3 separate regions of the Homo sapiens genome follow, and all the other regions are linked to region 3. Evidence: fine-mapped expression QTL. A gene starts in region 3. Each other region holds a variant in brackets. All regions are shown on one strand. Distances are from middle to middle.

Region 1 (5,000 bases), 98 kb before region 3:
GGCTCAAGCAATCCTTCCACCTCAGCCTCCCAAGCAGCTAGGACTACAGGCAGACATCACTATGCCTGGTTAATTTTTTTTTTTTTTTTTTTGTAGAGACAGGATCTTGCTATGTTGCCCAGGCTAGTCTCAAACTCCTGGGCTCAAGCAATCCTCCTGCCTCAGCCTCCCAAGTGTTGGGAATACAAAGCATAAGCCTCCAAACCTAGCAAGGATTTTTAAATGTAATTTATTATTATCAACAATTCATTAGCTATATATTTTAAAATTATATTTAACCTATCTAAAAATACTTTTAAGATGCAAATGAAAATAAACATTAAGTTATTTGGTAAAATTTTTTTTAAAAATAGGAAGAGGAGAAATGGTCAAACCATTATATAACCATTATATACTGATAATGTAGTTATATGCCACCAATGACCCATAAACATGAAAAATGACCAGCAGCCATTTCCATCAACTCACCGAAATATAGGGGTGTGGCCAGGCTTTGGTTTGCTCCAGGTAAAGGGTGAAGGAACTGAAAGAAACTGATCACCACATGAATCTTTCTTTAAAGGATACTGAGATCCAAGGCCATCATCTATTGAAGTCTCCCGGGCTGGTGATAAACTCCCTTGGTCATCTGAACACAGCTCTAATTTTCCTGGTAGTATGGCAGCTTGATCTTCAGAAGTTTTCCTTGTTTTGAGAGGGATGTCAGTCTCTACACAGTACTGAAATGGAAAAACTGCAGGGCCAAGGCCTGACCCACCATGGACAGAAGCATTGAGCCACGTATCTTCTGTCACACTTCCCCTGGGGGAGTGACCAGGTGAAGGAACAGGTGAGTGATGGGGTGAAAGGGACCCAGCATAACAAACTTCAGCACTGGAGTGCCTCCGTTTCCCACAGGGGGATGTGGGCCTTGATGAGGGTCCTGAGGCTGGCCTGGGGCTCAGCCAATTCTCATCAGTGACACTGGATCTAGGAGAGTGGCAAGGAGATTGCCTGGGTGATAATGAGTGTCCAAGTCCATACTGTTGATGCCAAGTTTCTTCTCCAGGGCAGCCCCCTGGAGAGCCACCAGGAGAAGTCAGAGGGGATCCAAGGGTAAATCGGGCTGCAGCTTCATTCAACTCTGAGTCCACATCATCATAAATATGTGAAAGCGATTCACAAGAAGATGCATCAGAGAACCAACTCCTAGAAGAGATGCTGCTGGCAGGACTAGGACTAAGAGAAGACTCCCGGTAGGATGGCTCAAGAGGAAGATAGAGATGATCTCTAGAAGGCCTTTCCAAAAATTCCCGTTCTGGGTCATTTATCTGTAGGTCATCTTCATGTGCATCTAATTCTTGATGACAGTTAGGAGAGATAGATGTAATTTGAATACTTGGGCACTCAAAGGGTTTGGGACCACCTAATGGGCTATATTTAGATTCAGGAATCTCACAAGTTCCTTCATAGTTTTTGTGACTTTGGAGCTGAAACGATGGTGACAAAACAGAAGAGTGAGACGGTAATCCATGATGTGGTAAGCAAAGTGGTGTGGTTAAAGTAGATGGAGGTGGATCTACATTAAAGATGTAAATGGATGCACAATCATCTGGCTCAAGATCTACGGGGAGGAAGGCAAAAAAAAAAAAACCCAACAAAACAAGAAATTAGAAAACTCAGATGTATAAATTACTAGATGAGAAAGTAAATAATAACAATCTCGAGAGAAAAAAGTGGGATATAAAATGTATGTCATTAGCTCCACTAAAGAAGTGGCATGTGTGTGTTTTTTCAATGCATCTGGTTATTTCTGCAGATATGTGTGATTATTACATATACAATTACATATGTAATTTTTCCTTTTTATGTCCACATTTTCTAAAAAGATAATCAGGAAACATTATGCCCTGAAAAAGATTTTTTTTTTTTTTTTTTGAGACAGGGTCTCACTCTCTCACCTAGACTGGAGTGCAATGGTGTGATCATAGCTCACTAAAGCCTCAACCTCCCATCCTAGGCTCAAGTGATCCTTTCCTCAGCCTCTGGAGTAGCTGGGACACAGGTACATGCCACACTCCTGGTTACTTTTTATTGTCATTTTTGGTAGACACAGGGCCTTGCTTTGTTGCCAAGGCTGGGCTCAAGCTATCCTCCCACCTTAGCCTCCCAAAGTGCTGGGATTACAGGTGTGAGGGAGCGTCTGTGCCCAGCTCAATAAATGTGTTTATTAAAAAAAAAAAAACACATCCATAATTCTAAAAAATACTCATAGCATACAGGCTGCAGTGAGCTCAGATCACGCCACTGTACTCCAGCCTGGGTGACACAGCAAGACTCCGTCTCAAAAAAAAAAAAAAAAAAAAAAGAAAAGAAAAGAAATGAGATATTCCTAGGCTGCAAAGAACAGAAAATCCAACTCAATGTAGCTGAAAAAGGGGGAGGGGACACAGGCTGAATATCCCTTATCCAAAATGCTTGAGGCCAGAAGTGCTTGGGATTTTGGATTTTTTTTTTTTGGCCCATTTACAAATACACAATGAGATATCTTGATATGGGACCCAAGTCTAAACATGAAATACACTTATGTTTCATATATACCTTATTCACATAGCCTGAAAGGTAATTTTGGACAATATTTTTTAATAATT[C/T]GGTGAATGAAAAAAAGTCTGTGTTAAGAATTCTCCACTTGTGGCATCATGTCAGAGCTAAAAAGTATAGGATATTGGAACATTCCAGATTTTGAATATGACCTGTATATATTATCCAACATAACAACCTGCATTATCAACCTGTATATATTATCCAACATAACAAGTAGTCAAAGGTAGGAGAGTTCCAAAAGTGGGTTTTTCTTTGTTTGTTTGTTTGTTTGTTTGAGATGGAGTCTTGCTCTGTCGCCCAGGCTGGAGTGCTGTGGCGCAATCTTGCCTCCTGGATTCAAGCAATTCTCCTGCCTCCTGTCTCAGTCTCCTGAGTAGCTGGGACTACAGGCACTCGCCACCATGCCTAGCTAATTTTTTTTTTTTTTTTTTTTTCTGAGACAGAGTCTCTCTCTGGCTTGAATGCAGTGGTGCGATCTTGGCTCACTGCAACCTCTGCCTCCGAAGTTCAGGCGATTCTCAAGCCTCAGCCTCCCAAGTAGCTGGAATTACAGGTGCCTGCCATGACACTCGGCTAATTTTTGTTATTTTTAGTAGAGACAGGGTTTTGCCATGTTGTCCAGGCTGGTCTCAAACTCCTGACCCCAAGCAATCTACCCTCCTTGGCCTCCCAAAGTGCCAGGATTACAAGCATGAGCCACCACACCCGGACTTTTTTTTTTTTTTTTGAGACTAGGTCTCGCTCTGTCACCCAGGCTGGAGTGCAGTGGTGCACTCATAGCTCACTGCTGCCTCAAACTTCTGGGTCAAGTGATCCTCCCACCTCAACCTTTCAAGTAGCCGAGACCACAGGTGCATGCCACCACTCCCAGCAATTTTTTTTTTTTTTTTTTGTAGAGACAGGGTCTCGTTTTGTTGCCCAGCCTAATCTTGAACTCCTGGGCTCAGGCAATCCAACTGCCCCAGCCTCCCAAAGTGCTGGGATTACAGTTCAACAATGTTCTTCAGAAATGTTTCTTTATTTCACTTTGCCATTTTTGGGGAGCTAACTTTGTGCTGTTCATTTTTCAACCACATATACCTATTCTGTCTACACTGGAAACAACATGATTCAACTTATTCATTTAACAAAAAAATTTTTTAGCAACTACTATGTAAGCAGGCATGTTCTGAATACTAAAAACACCATGGTAAACAAAACAAAATCCCCTCCTCATGGAGCTTACATTCTAGTAAAATATGTCAGGTAGTGATATTTGCTGTAAGAGAAAATAAAACGGGAAAAAATATAGAGGAGGCAAAGATGTTAATTTAATAGGAAAGTCTGGAAAGCCTTCTCTAATACTTGAGGAAATAGCAGAAGAATATTAATGTAACTGAGCTATACAGAAATTTAGGGGCATAATGCAGGCAGAGGATAATAGTAAGTGCAAAGACCTGAGGTACAGCATTGTTGAAGTGTACTGTATGAGAAAAAACAAGGCCAGTGGGACTTGAACTGAGTAAGGAGGCAGAATAATGAGAGCTACGGGTGGTCAGGGAGAGGCTAGTCAAGTAAGGCCTTACGAGATGGGAAACCACTGGAGCATTCTAAACAGAAAAGTATCATCATTTGATATATATGAACTGATATAAATTTAGGAGGCTACTGTAATCATCCAGGTGAGAAAAGATGGAATACAGGACCTAAGTGGTAGTGAGCTGTAAAAGCAGAAGCAGCATTAAGAAGTCAGATTTTGGATTAAAGTAGTGCTGACGGAACTTGTTGACTGGATGTGAAAGAACAGTCAAGGGTGACACCAAGGTTTAAAGCCTTGAACTATTATTAAAAACACAGTATTGGTCGGGCGCAGTGGCTCACACCTTTAATCCCAGCACTTTGAGAGGCCGAGGCGGGTGGATCACGAGATCAGGAGATCACGACCATGCTGGCTAACACGGTGAAACCCCATCTCTACTGAAAATACAAAAAATTAGCCGGGCGTGGTGGCAGGCGCCTGTGGTCCCAGCTGCTCGGGAGGCTGAGGTGGGAGAATGGCGTGAACCCAGGAGGCAGAGCTTGCAGTGAGCCAAGATCGCGCCATTGCACTCCAGCCTGGGCAACAGAGCGAGGCTGTCTCAAAAAACAACAACAACAATACAGTATTTCTGAAATTTTCTGAATTTCTGAAAGAACAGCAATTACTGAAATAAAGAAAGTGAGACAGACTTGAGATAAGAAACCAAAACTTCTACTTTGTACATATTAAATATGAGAGTCCAGTAAGCTTTCCAAGTGGAAATGTCAAATAGATATTTGTGCATAAGAACACAAGCTAGCTATGTAAATGTGGGAATCATTAACGTATATATGAAATTTAAAGCCATAAGACCAAAAGATCACTAAGAAATTAGTACAAATAGAGAAGAAAGTAGGCA
Region 2 (7,072 bases), 110 kb after region 3:
AAGTCAGAGCATAGGACCAGGCTGCATAACCAAGCCCCGTCACCTAGAGAGCACTGAGACATGCCACATTCTCTGCATCTCATTTTATCTTCTACATCCCAAGGCATGTTAGAGTCACTTTAAGAAGTGGGGAGGTCGAGTGTGGTGGCTCACACCTGTAATCCCAGCACTTTGGGAGGCCAAGGCAGGCAGATCACCTGAGGTCAGGAGTTCCAGACCAGCCTGGCCAACGTGGTAAAACCCCGTCTCTACTAAAAATACAAAAATTAGCCAGGTGTGGTGGCTGGCACCTATAATCCCAGCTACTTGGGAGGCTGAGGCAGGAGAATTGCTTGAACCCAAAAGGTGGAGGCTTTGGTGAGCCGAGATCACACCACTGCACTCCAGCCTGGGCGACAGAGTAAGACTCCATCTCAAAAAAAAAAAAAAAAAGAACTACAGGTGGTCAAGCTCATTGCCCCTTCAGGTATACTTAGCCCCAGATCAATGTATGGTCAACCTGCAGACCAGACACCCAACCCTGGGAGGCCACCTCCCACCAGCCCTTGTCACCCAGGTAGCAGCAGAGTGGCTATGAAGGTGGGCTTCCTCTCCCAACAGTACTCTGTCCCCTGCCCAGCAGCACTCACAAGGCTCTGTGAGAAATTCTACCCAAGCCCACCTGTTCCTAGTACAGTCACCTGGGCTCACCCACAGCTCAGAGACTGGCCAAGCAGAGGAGGGTGATAATTCAGGATGCTGAATGCAGCAGACAGCAAAGCTCCTAATGGCATCACTCTAATATCAATCCTACAAGAGCCCCTTCATCCGTCCTGCCTCTAGGAATAGAACTCTTGACAAAAGCACTGACATCAAGGATGTCACATTTCATGTCAAGTGAATCACAGACTCTCTGCATTGGAGGACCCTGACAGTTCTCTAGCATGAGTCTGTAGCTGATGACTCACCTTCTGTGTCATCCTTTAGAAACAGCTCCTCCAGGCCTCCTGTGATAGGAAGCCGCCTCTCAAGGTGACTGTGTCCTCAAACTGCTCTCACATTCACACAGGCCTTCGCTACCTCTCCCAACCTGTGTCTCCCCACCACTTCCAGCATGCCCTCTCCACTCCAGCGTGCCCTCTCCACTCCAGTGCCTCTGGGTGCTGGGTAAACATTCAGATTTTTCCTTTCCAGTCATCTCCTCCTCAGCATTTACCCCTCTTCCAAGAGTCTTGTATTTGCCCTAAAAGTTGACAAGCACACACCAGCCCTGGGCCTTTAAATCCTCCCCCTGCCTGTGCCCACAGGCAGCTGTGGCCAGCAGCCCCCTAAGCGCATTGCCAGCAGGCTCTCTGCTTCCTCCTGGAGTCTGGCCCCTTGAGGGGAGCACTCCACTGGCTGCACAGCCTGTCTGCCTGCCAGCAGTCACATTTGGGACGCTTCCCAGGGCATCACCAATAGCCACTGGTGCTTCCCTCAGGAGAAGCCAAGAGAAAATTCCCCCACCAGTTATCACTTATAAATACTGCAGTTCAACCCAGCATACAGGTACCACTGTGCACTAAGCCTGGACACGACAGTGGACAGCATATGTATTGATGTACATGCTGTCCTCAAGGACCCTACAGGCTAGACAGGAGAGATGTGTCCACTGATCAGCAGCCAGAAAGCACTGAAACAAGAAACCAGCAACGTGCTGAGGCACACATACCAGGGAGAGCAGACTGCAGCACTAGACAGGCCAAGAACTCTGAAGCCAAGACAGCCTGGAATCAAATCCCAGATGTGCCACCCTCCAGTCGGGAGACCATGGCCAAGTTATGTAACCTCACCATCCTCAGTTTCCTCATCTGTAAGGTGGGGGATTACGTACCACCTGGCAGGGTTGTCATAGATTGGAGATGGGGGGTGTAGAACATTCAGCCCTGGGTCTGCTACTTAGTGGGCACCACACAATGGCAGTAGGCAGCATTATTTCTAAAGGAAACAACTAAGACCGATACTGGGAGCAGCGTGAACAGTTGAGGCAGAAGCTTGGTGTGGAGAGTGAATGGGGGCAATGGCTCAGGCCTGTGGTGTGCAGGGAGTGGGGTGGGGTCTAGGGCATGGGCTTCAGGCTGGGGGATCTGGAGTGCCAGGATGGTAGGCAGGACCCCACATGCTCTCCAGGTCAGAGGGTAGCCTGGAATCCTCTCCAAGTCTGCCCATACAAGCTGATGTCCCTCCTGCAGAGCTAGGACTCTGCTCCATACTCCTTCACCTCCTATACTGTGGCTTACATATGCCATGTGGATCCCACTCCCTGGGATCCCTGATCTGCCCCAAACATCCCCAGGAGGACAGGATGGAATTATTCCAGTAGCCTCCAGCTAGCCTTCCTCCTGCCAGGCTCCATTCCCACTTTCTGCTGCCTTCCTCCTCCATTACCCAGAACCCAGAGGGCTCCTCCCACAGTGCAGAGGGCTCCCAACAACAAACACCAGACCTGCCCCAGCCTCTTCAACCTCTGCTCTGTCACTCCCAATCTCCTGTTTATTCTGGAGCACTCAGCAATGCTCCCTTCTCTGGGCCTCCTCCTTCTCAAAACTCATCTTCTGCAGGAAGCTTTCTATTCAAGTCCATGGATGCCACTGAGCCTGACAGAGGACTGGGGCTGCATGGACAGAGCTTGCAGGAAATAGGCACACCAGACCCGGCCTGGTGTACAGGGGAGAGCACTCTATGGGGTCAGGGAACAGGAAAGGTGCCCCTAGAAAGGCACCAAGCACCACGAGACACTCGCTGGTGAAGAATGCATACCTCCAAACGCTGCTGCGTCAGAGGTCCTTCATTCACACAGCAACAACCCCCTCATCATGGAACACTCTCTCTCTCACAGGTTATCCTGGCAGAGGCTTGCTCACTTACATGGCCTTCCTAATGGCAAACACCTATTACACATATAGGACAGATGGCTGGAGTGGGTGGGGTCAGGGCCCAACCACCTGACCTGAGCACCATAGTCCATGTTCCAGACTGCCCAGGCCCAGTGGCTCTATGCCAAGGCCTGTGTTCACATGTGTCTGCCAATGCGGGTTCATTCTATGGCCATTCCCTATTCTAGTTCCTTCTCCCCAGGCAATCTCAACCTCTAGGGATAGGAAGAACAGGCCTTCACGTCTCTTGCATTTTCCCCAGGTGTGAGCAGGTGTGCTTGTGGGTGGGCAGTGGCCAGGAGAACAACAATAACAAAAAATGCCTGTCCTAGTGTCCTGGGATAGAGCTATAAAAGCATGCCAGGTTGCTGGCAGGAGCTTGAAGGAGGTGCTGCCTCTGCTTACCAGGAGACCGTCTAGCTGTGAAGTGAGTGGCTGGAAGGAGTGATTGCTGGGTCCCATTCTAGCGATGTCTGTCCTCACCTCCATGCAGAAAAGTAAAGAGAAACCAGGGCTCTGCCAGGGAGTGGCAGAGGCTGGTACTTCTCAGACTCCTGATGTTTATGCACATCCCCTGGAATCTCATTAAAATGTAGATTCTGATTCAACAGGTTTTGTGGGGCCTGAGGGTCTGCTGGATGTTCTCCAGCTGAGAGAGCCTGATCTCATGATAAGGACCCCTCCCCCAGGAAATGTCCCAGACGGATCCCTCCCAACCCAGAGCTCTCCACAGCGGGTGATAGAATCTGATTTTTGGGGTCAGGCAAGCTCCTGGTCACAGATAAGGGCCACCAGAACCTGCCAGGATTTGCCTCTGGAGCTGGAAACTGATGCTTTTCAGCTCCAGGTAAAGGGTAGTGGGAGCAAAGGCTGAGCAGTGCCTCTCCAACACACACACACACACACACACACACACACAC[A/T]CTCTCTCTCTCTCTCACTCACTCACTCATTCACTCACTCATTCACTGTGAGCTGCAGAGTCCTGCCCTGTGATTCCAGCAGAAGAACAACAGAATCTAAGGACCCAGTCTTTCGGCTACAGTAGGAGCGGGCAGGAACCCACTCCCCACCCCATTCGTCATTTTCCAACCCTCAGGTAATCAATAGCCAGTTAGCAAGACTGTGCAAGCTCCAATTAGATTAGCTGCCAGGTCAACGACTGCCAGAATCAGGAACTCAGGCAAACCTACAGGCTTGTAGCAGAGTCCTTCCTCTGTCAGCGTATCTTGGGAAATCTCTCTCCCTCACTCCTGGGCTAAGTTCAATGCCCCCTCTGCCAGCTGGACCCTCAACAGCCTGGCACCATGCAGTGCTCCCAGAACACAATCAGCTTCTCAAGCTTCAGACATTCCCAGATCTATCTTAAAATTTCAGTTTCACCGGGTGCGGTGGCTCACGCCTGTAATCCTAGCACTTTGGGAAGCTGAGGCGGGCAGATCACCTGAGGTCAGGAGTTTAAGATCAGCCTAGCCAATATGCCGAAACCCCGTCTCTACTAAAATACAAAAATTAGCCGGGCATGGTGGCACACTCCTGTAATCCCAGCTACTCGGGAGGCTGAGGCAGGAGAATCGCTGGAACCTGGGAGGTGGAGGCTGCAGTGAGCTGAGATCGTGCCACTGCACTCCAGCCTGGGCGACAGAGCGAGACTCCATCTCAAAGAAAAAAAAAAAATTCAGACCGGACACAGTGGCTCACGCCTGTAATCCCACCACTTTGGGAGGCTGAGGCAGGCGGATCACCTGAGGTTGGGAGTTCGAGACCAGCCTGACCAACAAGAAGAAACCCCATCTCTACTAAAAATACAAAATTAGATATCTGGGCATGGTGGCGCATGCCTGTAATCCCAGCTACTTGGGAGGCCGAGGCAGGAGAATCGCTTGAACCCAGGAGGCGTAGGTTGCAGTGAGCCAAGATCGCCCCATTGCACTCCAGCCTGGGCAACAAGAGCGAAACTCCATCTCAAAAAAAAAAAAATTCAGTTTCAGCTACAACTTCACGTGGTTCTCCAGAGCCTGCTATTAGGACAACTGAACTTCCCAAGTACCCTGCAGGGTCCTCTGACGGACCACAGCTATATATGAACCTGTCCCTCAGGCCATTGCCCCCAGGCCTGCCTCCTGCTTTCTCCCTCCTATACTTCTGTAGCTATCATTCCCTTTTTCTTGGTCTGACTCCTCACAGCCATGCTCCAAATTCCAGGTTCCCTCTTCTCTAAGACTGTCCCTCACCACCCCAGCCCACTTTTAAGGCACCTGCCTAAAAAACCTGCTCCTAAAGCATGTTCTTATAGGTCAGTGTTATCAACACCACCTGGTGTTTATTAGAAATGCAGACCCTCAGGCCCTACCTAGACCTATTAAATCAGAATCTACATTTTAACGAGATTCCAGGGGATGTGTATGAACATCAGGAGTCTGAGAAGTACCAGCCTCTGCCACTCCCTGGCAGGGCTCTGGTTTCTCTTTACTTTTCTGCATGGAGGTGAGGACAGACATCGCTAGAATGGGACCCAGCAATCACTCCTTCCAGCCACTCACTTCACAGCTAGACGGTCTCCTGGTAAGCAGAGGCAGCACCTCCTTCAAGCTCCTGCCAGCAACCTGGCATGCTTTTATAGCTCTATCCCAGAACACCAGGACAGGCTTTTTAAAAAAAAAAATTTTTTTTAAGACAGGGTCTTGGCCAGGTGTGGTGGCTCACATCTGTAACCCCAGCACTTTGGGAGGCCAAGGCAGGCAGATCACCTGAGGTCAGGAGTTTGAGACCAGCCTGGCCAACATGGTGAAACCCCATCTCTACTAAAAATACAAAACATTAGCCGTGCGTGGTGGCGCATGCCTGTAGTCCCAGCTACTCGGGAGGCTGAGGCGGGAGAATCACTTGAACCTGAGAGGCGGAAGCTGCAGTGAGCCAAGATCGCACCCCTGCACTCCAGCCTGGGTAACAGGGCAAGACTCCGTCTTCACACAGGCTGGAGTGCAGTGGCACATTCACAGCTCCCTGCAACCTTGAACTCCTGGGCTCAAGTGATCCTCCCACCTCAGCCTCCTGAGTAGCTGGGACTACAGGCATGTGCCCACACCTGGCTAAAAAAAATTTTTTTTAAGAGATGGGGTCTCGCTATGTTGCCCAGGCTGGTCTCAAACTCCTGGCTTCAGGTGATCCTCCTGCCTCAGCCTCCCAAACTGTGCTGAGATTACAAATGTGAGCCACCATGCCCAGCCTGGGAGAGGATTTCTTTTTTTTTGTTTCTTTTTTTGAGACAGAGTTTCGCTCTTGTTGCCCAGGCTGAAGTGCAATGGCACAATCTCGGCTCACTGCAACCTCTGCCTCATGGGTTCAAGTGATTCTCCTGCCTCAGCCTCCCGAGTAGCTGGGATTACAGGCATGTGCCACCACGCCCGGCTAATTTTGCATTTTTAGTAGAGACGGGGTTTCACCATGTTGGTCAGGCTGGTCTCGAACTCCCAACCTCAGGTGATCTGCCCACCTTGGCCTCCCAAAGTGCTGGGATTACAGGCGTGAGCCACCGTACCCGGCTGGGAGAGGATTTCTTATTGCCAGTTTATAGCCACAGATTGTGCCAACCTGATGGCCAATCCATATCTGAGAACCAAGTAAACATCAAGGCATTGCCCCAACGTTACTGAGGGGATCATCATCAGGATAAAGGGGCTTGTCTTTAAATTGTTCCCTCTATCACCACCTGTGCCTGCTCCTCTCACTCTTCCCAGTGCCTTCCATAGACACCAAAAGCTCACACTTGCCATGATGATGCTGGGAACCAAACCCAAAGCTTTATCTGAGCCTTGAGTCAAATCTAATTAGACTGGAATGGTCCCGAGTGTAACAGTTAATTCACTGTTGGGCACTCCTGACTTTTAACTGAGTATAAGGGACTATTCTCTGGCTTCCCAGGCTCTCATTCAGTACCAGTATGGTCCCATTTACTGCTCAGTGCTATAAGCATGTGACAGCCAGATTTTCTGCAGAACCCACCTGTCCACATAAAATCTGAGAATGACAGTGGGCCAGGACTGAGTTCTCCACAAGGCTGACCACTCTGCAGTAAGCATCTAGTGGTCTACAGTGGCCCCTTCACCCCTAGGCCCACAGATCCCAGTTACTGGTATAAATCTTCACCACCTGCCTGACTCCTACGCAACGATCTCCTA
Region 3 (7,072 bases):
GCGCACAGCCCTGCTACAGGTGGGAAAATGGAGGAACAATAAAGTAATACCAATAGCACTTTTTATTGCTGTAATGCTTTGCAATTCCCAAAGTGCTTCATTTATAACTGTGATTCTCAAGCCTAGTTACATCTGGAGAGGTTTCTAAAAATACCAATTTCTCGGCTGGGCACAATGGCTCACATCTGTAATCCCAGCACTTCGGGAGGCCAAGGCAGGCAGATCAACTGAGGTCAGGAGTTCGAGATCAGCCTGGTCAAAATGGCAAAACCTCATCTCTACTAAAAATACAGAAATTAGCCGGGTTTGGTAGCACGTGCCTGTAATCCCACCTACTGGGGTGGCTGAGGCAGAAGAATCACTTGAACCTGGGAGGCAGAGGTTACAGTGAGTCGAGATGGCACCACTGAAGTCTAGCCTGGGTGACAGAGCAAGACCTTGTCTAGGCCTTAACCCAAATCAATTAAATCAGAATGTAAACTCCACAAGGGCAGGGATTTTGGCTGTTTTCCTCACTACCAATGCCTGGCACATGCGTGGTGCTCAGGAAGTATTTGTTGAATGAATGATTGAATGAATGAATGAATATACCATTATTAACTGAGATCCAAGGAACACACCAAGCTCCTGATCTCAGGAGCTTAGATTTTTTTTCACAATAAGGATACCTTTCCTATTTCTAAAGCACTACTTATAAAAATATCTCAGAAAACATTTAGAAGTTAATCAATGTCCTCTGTGAGTGAGGGGGAAAAAAGGTAGGCAGTGTCTAGTGATGTGACAAGAAGAAATTAGTGGCCACGGACACAGACAGGCTTAGGCAAGCTCTAACTCCTGTGAAATTTTGAGGTAATCATATTGTAAGGACTCAAGCATAATGAGAAAACAACTATATATTAACCAGCTACCCTACCCTGGATATTTGAACAAAACCCAAAAACCCAAATGCATATACATACCTATTATTTTGTTCTGATACTTCAGGATTACTTTGATATATGTGTTCTGGCTTTGTACAGAGTAATTCTTTGTTTGATATCTGAAAAACAGTGGCACATGGAAATGGATGAAACCTGTTGGGACAAACATCCAAGGGACCTTTTTTTTTTTTTTTTGAGACAGAGTCTCGCCCTGTCGCCCAGGCTGGAGTGCAATGGTGCGATCTCGGCTCACTGCAACAACCTCCGCCTCCCGGGTTCAAACGATTATCCTGCCTCAGCCTCCCGAGTAGCTGGGATTACAGGCATGAGCCTGGCCCCAAGGAACTATTTGGATAAGGAGAAGCCCTGAGTTTGGAAAGAATCATAAAAGTAGCATAGAATTGGGCCGGGCACAGCGGCTCACACCTGTAATCTCAGCACTTTGGGAGACCAAGGTGGGCAAATCATGAGGTCAGGAGTTTGAGACCAGCCTGCCCAACGTAGTGAAACCCTGTCTCTATTAAAAATACAAAAATTAGCTGGGAGTGGTAGCGCACACCTCTAATCCCAGCTACTCAGATGGCTGATGCAGGAGAATCCCTTGAACCCAGAAGGCAGAGACTGCAGTGAGCTGACATCGCACCACTGTACTCCAGCCTGGGCAACACAGTGAGACTGTCTATAAAAAAAAAAAAAAAAAAAGTATCCAGCCATTGTCAAATATGGTGGGAGGGAAAGGGCAAAATCACCCTTGTTTTAGAACCACTACCCTATCCAATGACTGTTCATTCACCCATCACTACTCAAAACTTTCTCTTCCTACTTCCAGATATTTTCTTGTGGAGAAAAAAAGCCTCTCTTCCTCTGATTTATCTGGTAACTCTCCAGAAAGTCTAATTGTGTAGCACAAGGGTAGAGTGTACTTAAAATTGTGAAAGTTTTTCCTCATACTATTCCAAAAAAAGCAAAGTTTTTATCTTTTCATTGGTATTTGATGAAACTAAAACGTTTTCTCCAGATGTTACGAACCTCCCAGAGAGTTAATCCATAAATATTTACCTTATCTCCCACCCCAGGCACTGCAAATTACAGAAAAGATCTGACACCCATTTTCCAGATCTGTTCAAGAAGTATCTGTTGGGCATGGTGGCTCACGCTTATAATCCCATCACTTTGGGAGGCCGAGGTGGGAAGATCGCTTGAGGCCAGGAGTTCGAGACCAGCCAGGCCTACATAGTGAAACCCTGTCTCTACTAAAAACAGAAAAAATTAGCCGGGCGTGGGTGGTGTACGGCTGTAGTCTCAGCTACTTGGGAGGCAGAGGCAGGAGAATCACCTGAACCCAGGAGGTGGAGGTTGCAGTGAGCCGAGATTGCGCCACTGCACTCCAGCCTGGGTGACAGAACGAGACTGTGTCTCAGAAAAAAAAAAAAAAAAAGTGACTCGTATAGTTCTTGTTTTTACAACCCGAATATCTGAATTCAGGTAAAATATTCTGCCTGACCAGGGCTACATGATAAGCCACGTACTTGATCACTTTGTAGGGTCGCAGCACCCTTCTTACTACTATTTTAGGTAATTCAGGTTTCTGACGGGGAAGCCAGTGGAGCTGAGCGGGCTGCAAGAGGGGTGGGTTCTGGATGAGAAGTTGGGACGCGTGACGAGGGAGTAGAGAGTGAACCTTGGCTTAAAAGGAAGGAAAATAACTGTGAAGAAAAGATGACCCAACTTGAAATAAAACCTGAAGACCTTATCTCCCACTTGAGAGAGAGAAGAAGCTGAAAGCCATCAGCTTGCACTCTGGGCTCACAGACAGAGAGGGTGAGGGGTTGAGCCCAGATCTATGACTTCAGACCCCTGTCTCGGCCCCTAGGCCTGATCATTCATTCAAACTCTCAATAAACACGGATTACCAGACCCTGCGCAGGGAACACATCTGGGAAAACAGCTGCAACCTCGGATACCAGCACGGGACAAGCTATCTCAGGGCAATGAGGAACAACTAAAGAGAATCCCAGGAACCAGGTAACCAATCGCCAGAAGCCCTCCGCCCTCATGGTCCATTGGGTCAAGGCCCCACTGCCGCCTCGTATCGCCAGCCTCCAGTCCTGCCTCCACGACGCGCCCTTCCCCAAGGCTGGCCGGGTCTGGATGTCGCCATCCCCTATTCGGAGCTACAGACCTCGCAGCTGAACTCTTAAAAAGAACCTCGCTTCTTCCTCACGGTGCTCCAGCTCCACACACCGTACTGAGCCTCGCCAGCCACCGTACGCGAGGTCGCGGCGCGTCCGTGACGTCACTGATGTGCGCTTCTCCCGCACTAAGGGAAACATGGCTCTAACGCGGCCGGTGCGGCTCTTTTCCCTCGTGACTCGGTTGCTCCTGGCGCCGCGACGGGGCCTCACGGTCCGCAGTCCCGACGAACCCCTGCCGGTGGTGCGCATCCCAGTGGCTCTACAGCGGCAGTTGGAACAGCGGCAGAGCAGGCGGCGGAACCTCCCGAGGCCGGTGCTGGTTCGACCCGGACCGCTGCTGGTTTCGGCGCGGCGGCCGGAGTTGAACCAGCCGGCGCGCCTCACACTGGGCCGTTGGGAGCGCGCGCCGCTAGCCTCTCAAGGCTGGAAGAGTCGACGCGCGCGTCGGGACCACTTCTCCATCGAGCGCGCGCAACAGGAGGCGCCAGCGGTGCGAAAGCTCTCGTCTAAGGGCAGCTTTGCTGACCTGGGCCTGGAGCCCCGTGTGCTGCACGCACTACAGGAGGCTGCGCCTGAAGTCGTTCAGCCCACAACCGTGCAGTCTAGCACCATCCCCTCACTACTTCGCGGCCGCCATGTCGTTTGCGCCGCAGAAACCGGCAGTGGCAAGACTCTCAGCTACCTCCTGCCGCTGCTTCAACGGCTCTTGGGCCAGCCAAGCCTGGACTCCCTTCCTATCCCCGCGCCCCGAGGCCTGGTCCTTGTTCCTTCCCGAGAATTGGCCCAACAGGTGCGGGCTGTGGCCCAACCCTTGGGCCGCTCCTTGGGCCTGCTGGTGCGGGACCTGGAGGGAGGCCACGGCATGCGTAGGATCAGGCTGCAGCTGTCCAGACAGCCTTCAGCAGATGTGCTTGTGGCCACTCCAGGGGCTCTGTGGAAGGCCCTGAAAAGTCGACTGATCAGTCTGGAGCAACTCTCCTTCTTGGTGTTGGATGAGGCAGACACACTGCTGGATGAAAGCTTCCTGGAACTGGTGGACTACATCTTAGAGAAGAGCCACATAGCAGAAGGCCCAGCTGACTTGGAAGACCCCTTCAATCCCAAAGCTCAGTTAGTGCTGGTAGGAGCCACATTTCCCGAAGGTGTAGGCCAGTTGCTGAATAAAGTCGCCAGCCCAGATGCTGTCACCACCATCACCAGCTCCAAGCTCCACTGTATCATGCCTCATGTGAAACAGACATTTCTGAGACTGAAGGGAGCAGATAAGGTGGCCGAGCTGGTGCACATCCTCAAGCATCGTGACAGAGCAGAAAGGACTGGTCCCTCAGGAACTGTTCTGGTGTTCTGTAATAGCTCCAGCACTGTGAACTGGCTGGGATATATTCTGGATGACCACAAAATCCAACACCTAAGGTTGCAGGGGCAAATGCCAGCCTTGATGAGGGTAGGAATCTTCCAGTCCTTCCAGAAGAGCTCCCGAGACATACTTCTCTGCACAGACATAGCCTCTCGGGGCCTGGACAGCACTGGTGTGGAGCTGGTTGTCAATTATGATTTCCCCCCAACGCTGCAAGATTACATCCACAGAGCAGGGAGAGTGGGCCGTGTGGGGAGCGAGGTGCCAGGCACCGTCATCAGTTTTGTGACCCATCCCTGGGATGTGAGCCTGGTTCAGAAGATTGAGCTGGCGGCTCGCCGAAGGAGAAGTCTTCCAGGACTAGCATCCTCGGTGAAAGAGCCTTTGCCCCAAGCAACCTGATTTTGACAAATCTGATTAAAATGTGATGCTAGAACAGGGATCTTTCCCAGTATCTTGAGTGGGTGACCACACTTGTCAGTGGGAGGCTCTGGGCTGCCCTGTCGGCTCCTTGAGGGCGGGATGAACTGCTTTGTGACTTGGAAAGGTACGCTGCTGGCCAGCATTGGAGAAGAAGCTGCTGAGCATGGCTTTCTGTAGTCTTTAGCAAGACACAAGTGGATTTTGACTTTGTATCATGTCATGATTTCTAACAATAAATGATGTTTTTATGTGCCTCCCCTAAGAATAATTAGCACCGGGGCGGAATTCAGTAGTTTCTGAGGATTCATACACCAAACCTCCACATCTAGGACAAAGGCTCTTTCAGTTGATGTTTTCATTTATAAACATTTAGTTTGTATTTCCTGCCCCCAAAAAGGTATCCATTAAGCCCCCAGGGAAAGGAAAGGAAAGGAAATGTGACTAGCAGTAGACAGAGTTACTCTCTAACAATGCCCAAGACAAACGGGCGTCTTGGCGAAATCTCTGGAAGGTACTGGCAGAAAAGTAAAGGGTAGACGAACACAGAAGTTTTGCTTGTACATTTTCAGGTTCTGCCTTCTATCCCAACTCGGTAGCCGAGAAAGAGGAGAGATGATTAAACGGTTTTACAAAACTGGAAAAATAACCATATAGCATTTTCTTTATATATATATATACGTATATATATATATATATATATATATATACATACGTATATATATATATACACATACATATATATACGTATATATATATATGTATATATATATATACGTGTATATATATATACGTGTATATATATATGTGTATATATATATATACACAAAAAAAAATTACAAAAATCAACCCGGCGTGGTGGCACGCGCCTGTAGTCCCAGCTACTCGGGAGGCTGAGGCAGGAGAATCACTTGAACCTGGGAGGCGGAGGTTGCAGTGAGCCAAGATCATACCACTACACTCCAGCCTAGGGGACAGAGCAAGACTCCATCTCAAAAAAAAAAAAAAAAAAAAGCCGGGTGTGGTGGCTCACGCCTGTAATGCCAGCACTTTGGGAGGCTGAGGCAGGAGGATCACCTGAGGTCAGGAGTTTAAGACCAGCCTGGTAAACATGCGAAACCCCATCTCTATTAAAAATACAAAAAAATTAGCTGAATGTGGTGGTGCACGCCTGTAATCCCAAATACTTGGGAGGCTGAGGCACAAGAATGGCTTGAATTCTGGAGGCGAAGGTTTCAGTGAGCCAAAATTGCACTTCTGCACTCCAGCCTGGGTGACAGAGCTGATATTCTGTCTCAAAAAAAATAACAGAATCCTGAGCCCCACTCCAGATGGGATTAAGCTCTCTAAAGTTTGACCTGAGAATACTCTTTGTAAACTCCCCCAGGTGATACTTGGGCCCTCCCAAATTGATAAACCATTTGTCTATGCTGTACTGCCTTTCCCAGAGTCCCAGCAAATTCCTGTAAGGCTTTGTACCCCCACAAGACAAGAGGGATGCTTCCGGACAAGTACTCTCTCCAGAGCCTTGGAGAATCTGAGTGATCTCATGCTAGCCCTCCTGCCAGAACAGACTTCCCAGGAACCATCCCCTTGATATTTTACCTCCTACCACTCCCTGCAGGCCATCAATTAGCACCACACTAAAGCAACTTATGAGAGAAGGTGCTATGATTCTCAACCGGGGTGACCCAGTCTCCAAAGATCGGGCCGTCTCTACCTCCTGGGCATATCCCCTCTGCAATAACCCCACTAAATAAATGTCCCATGTTTGCTTTTTCAAGGCCAGTAATAGGGAGACCTCTCCTTAAGGTCATCTCTCTTTGGTAGGAAGTTCTTGGCCACACTGAACCAAAGGCTGCTCCTAGTGTGGTCCTGATCAGGCTAAGGGCAGAGTTGCCTGTTTCCTTTGAGTAGGACCAAATCGCCTTTTTTTAAATATAAAAAAAATAGACACAAGGTCTAGCTATGTTACCCACGCTGGTCTCAAATTCCTGGGCTCAAGAGATACTCCTGCCTCCACCTCGCAAAGTGCTAGGATTACAGGTGTGAGCCGCCACGCCTGGCCCTAATGACCTTTTGGTACCTCTCCACAGTGCTGACCTGGGCTGCTGCTGGGAGCTAAACCTCATCCTTTCATAGTGATAAGATTGTCATTGTTTGCCTATTTAAAGAGAGGG

The links. PIP is the estimated chance that this variant, and not a neighbour inherited with it, causes the effect. A credible set is the group of variants that fine-mapping cannot tell apart.
Region 1: its variant is the best candidate, but not a certain one, in a credible set for the expression of DUS2 in whole blood (INTERVAL, PIP 0.62).
Region 2: its variant is the best candidate, but not a certain one, in a credible set for the expression of DUS2 in whole blood (INTERVAL, PIP 0.89).

Annotation. Positions count from the first base shown.
Region 1 is chr16:68,118,590-68,123,589 of GRCh38, reverse strand. It overlaps NFATC3 (nuclear factor of activated T cells 3), which reads right to left. Exons shown (of 10, transcript NM_173165.3): 2 at 469-1,603. Among named protein-coding and RNA genes, the nearest start is that of NFATC3, 36 kb to the right of the region's middle. RefSeq lists a silencer at 4,389-4,518. The variant C/T (reference allele first, on the strand shown) is at 2,631.
Region 2 is chr16:67,911,953-67,919,024 of GRCh38, reverse strand. All of the region lies in intron 2 of PSKH1 (protein serine kinase H1), which reads right to left. Among named protein-coding and RNA genes, the nearest start is that of CTRL, 16 kb to the left of the region's middle. RefSeq lists an enhancer at 2,786-3,309. The variant A/T (reference allele first, on the strand shown) is at 3,815.
Region 3 is chr16:68,019,382-68,026,453 of GRCh38, reverse strand. It overlaps DUS2 (dihydrouridine synthase 2), which reads right to left and starts at 3,170. Exons shown (of 17, transcript NM_017803.5): 1 at 3,103-3,170; 2 at 960-1,039. It overlaps DDX28 (DEAD-box helicase 28), which reads left to right and starts at 3,222. Exons shown (of 1, transcript NM_018380.4): 1 at 3,222-5,538. The coding sequence starts at 3,252. The coding sequence ends at 4,874. RefSeq lists enhancers at 3,070-3,309, 3,020-3,770, 3,771-4,521.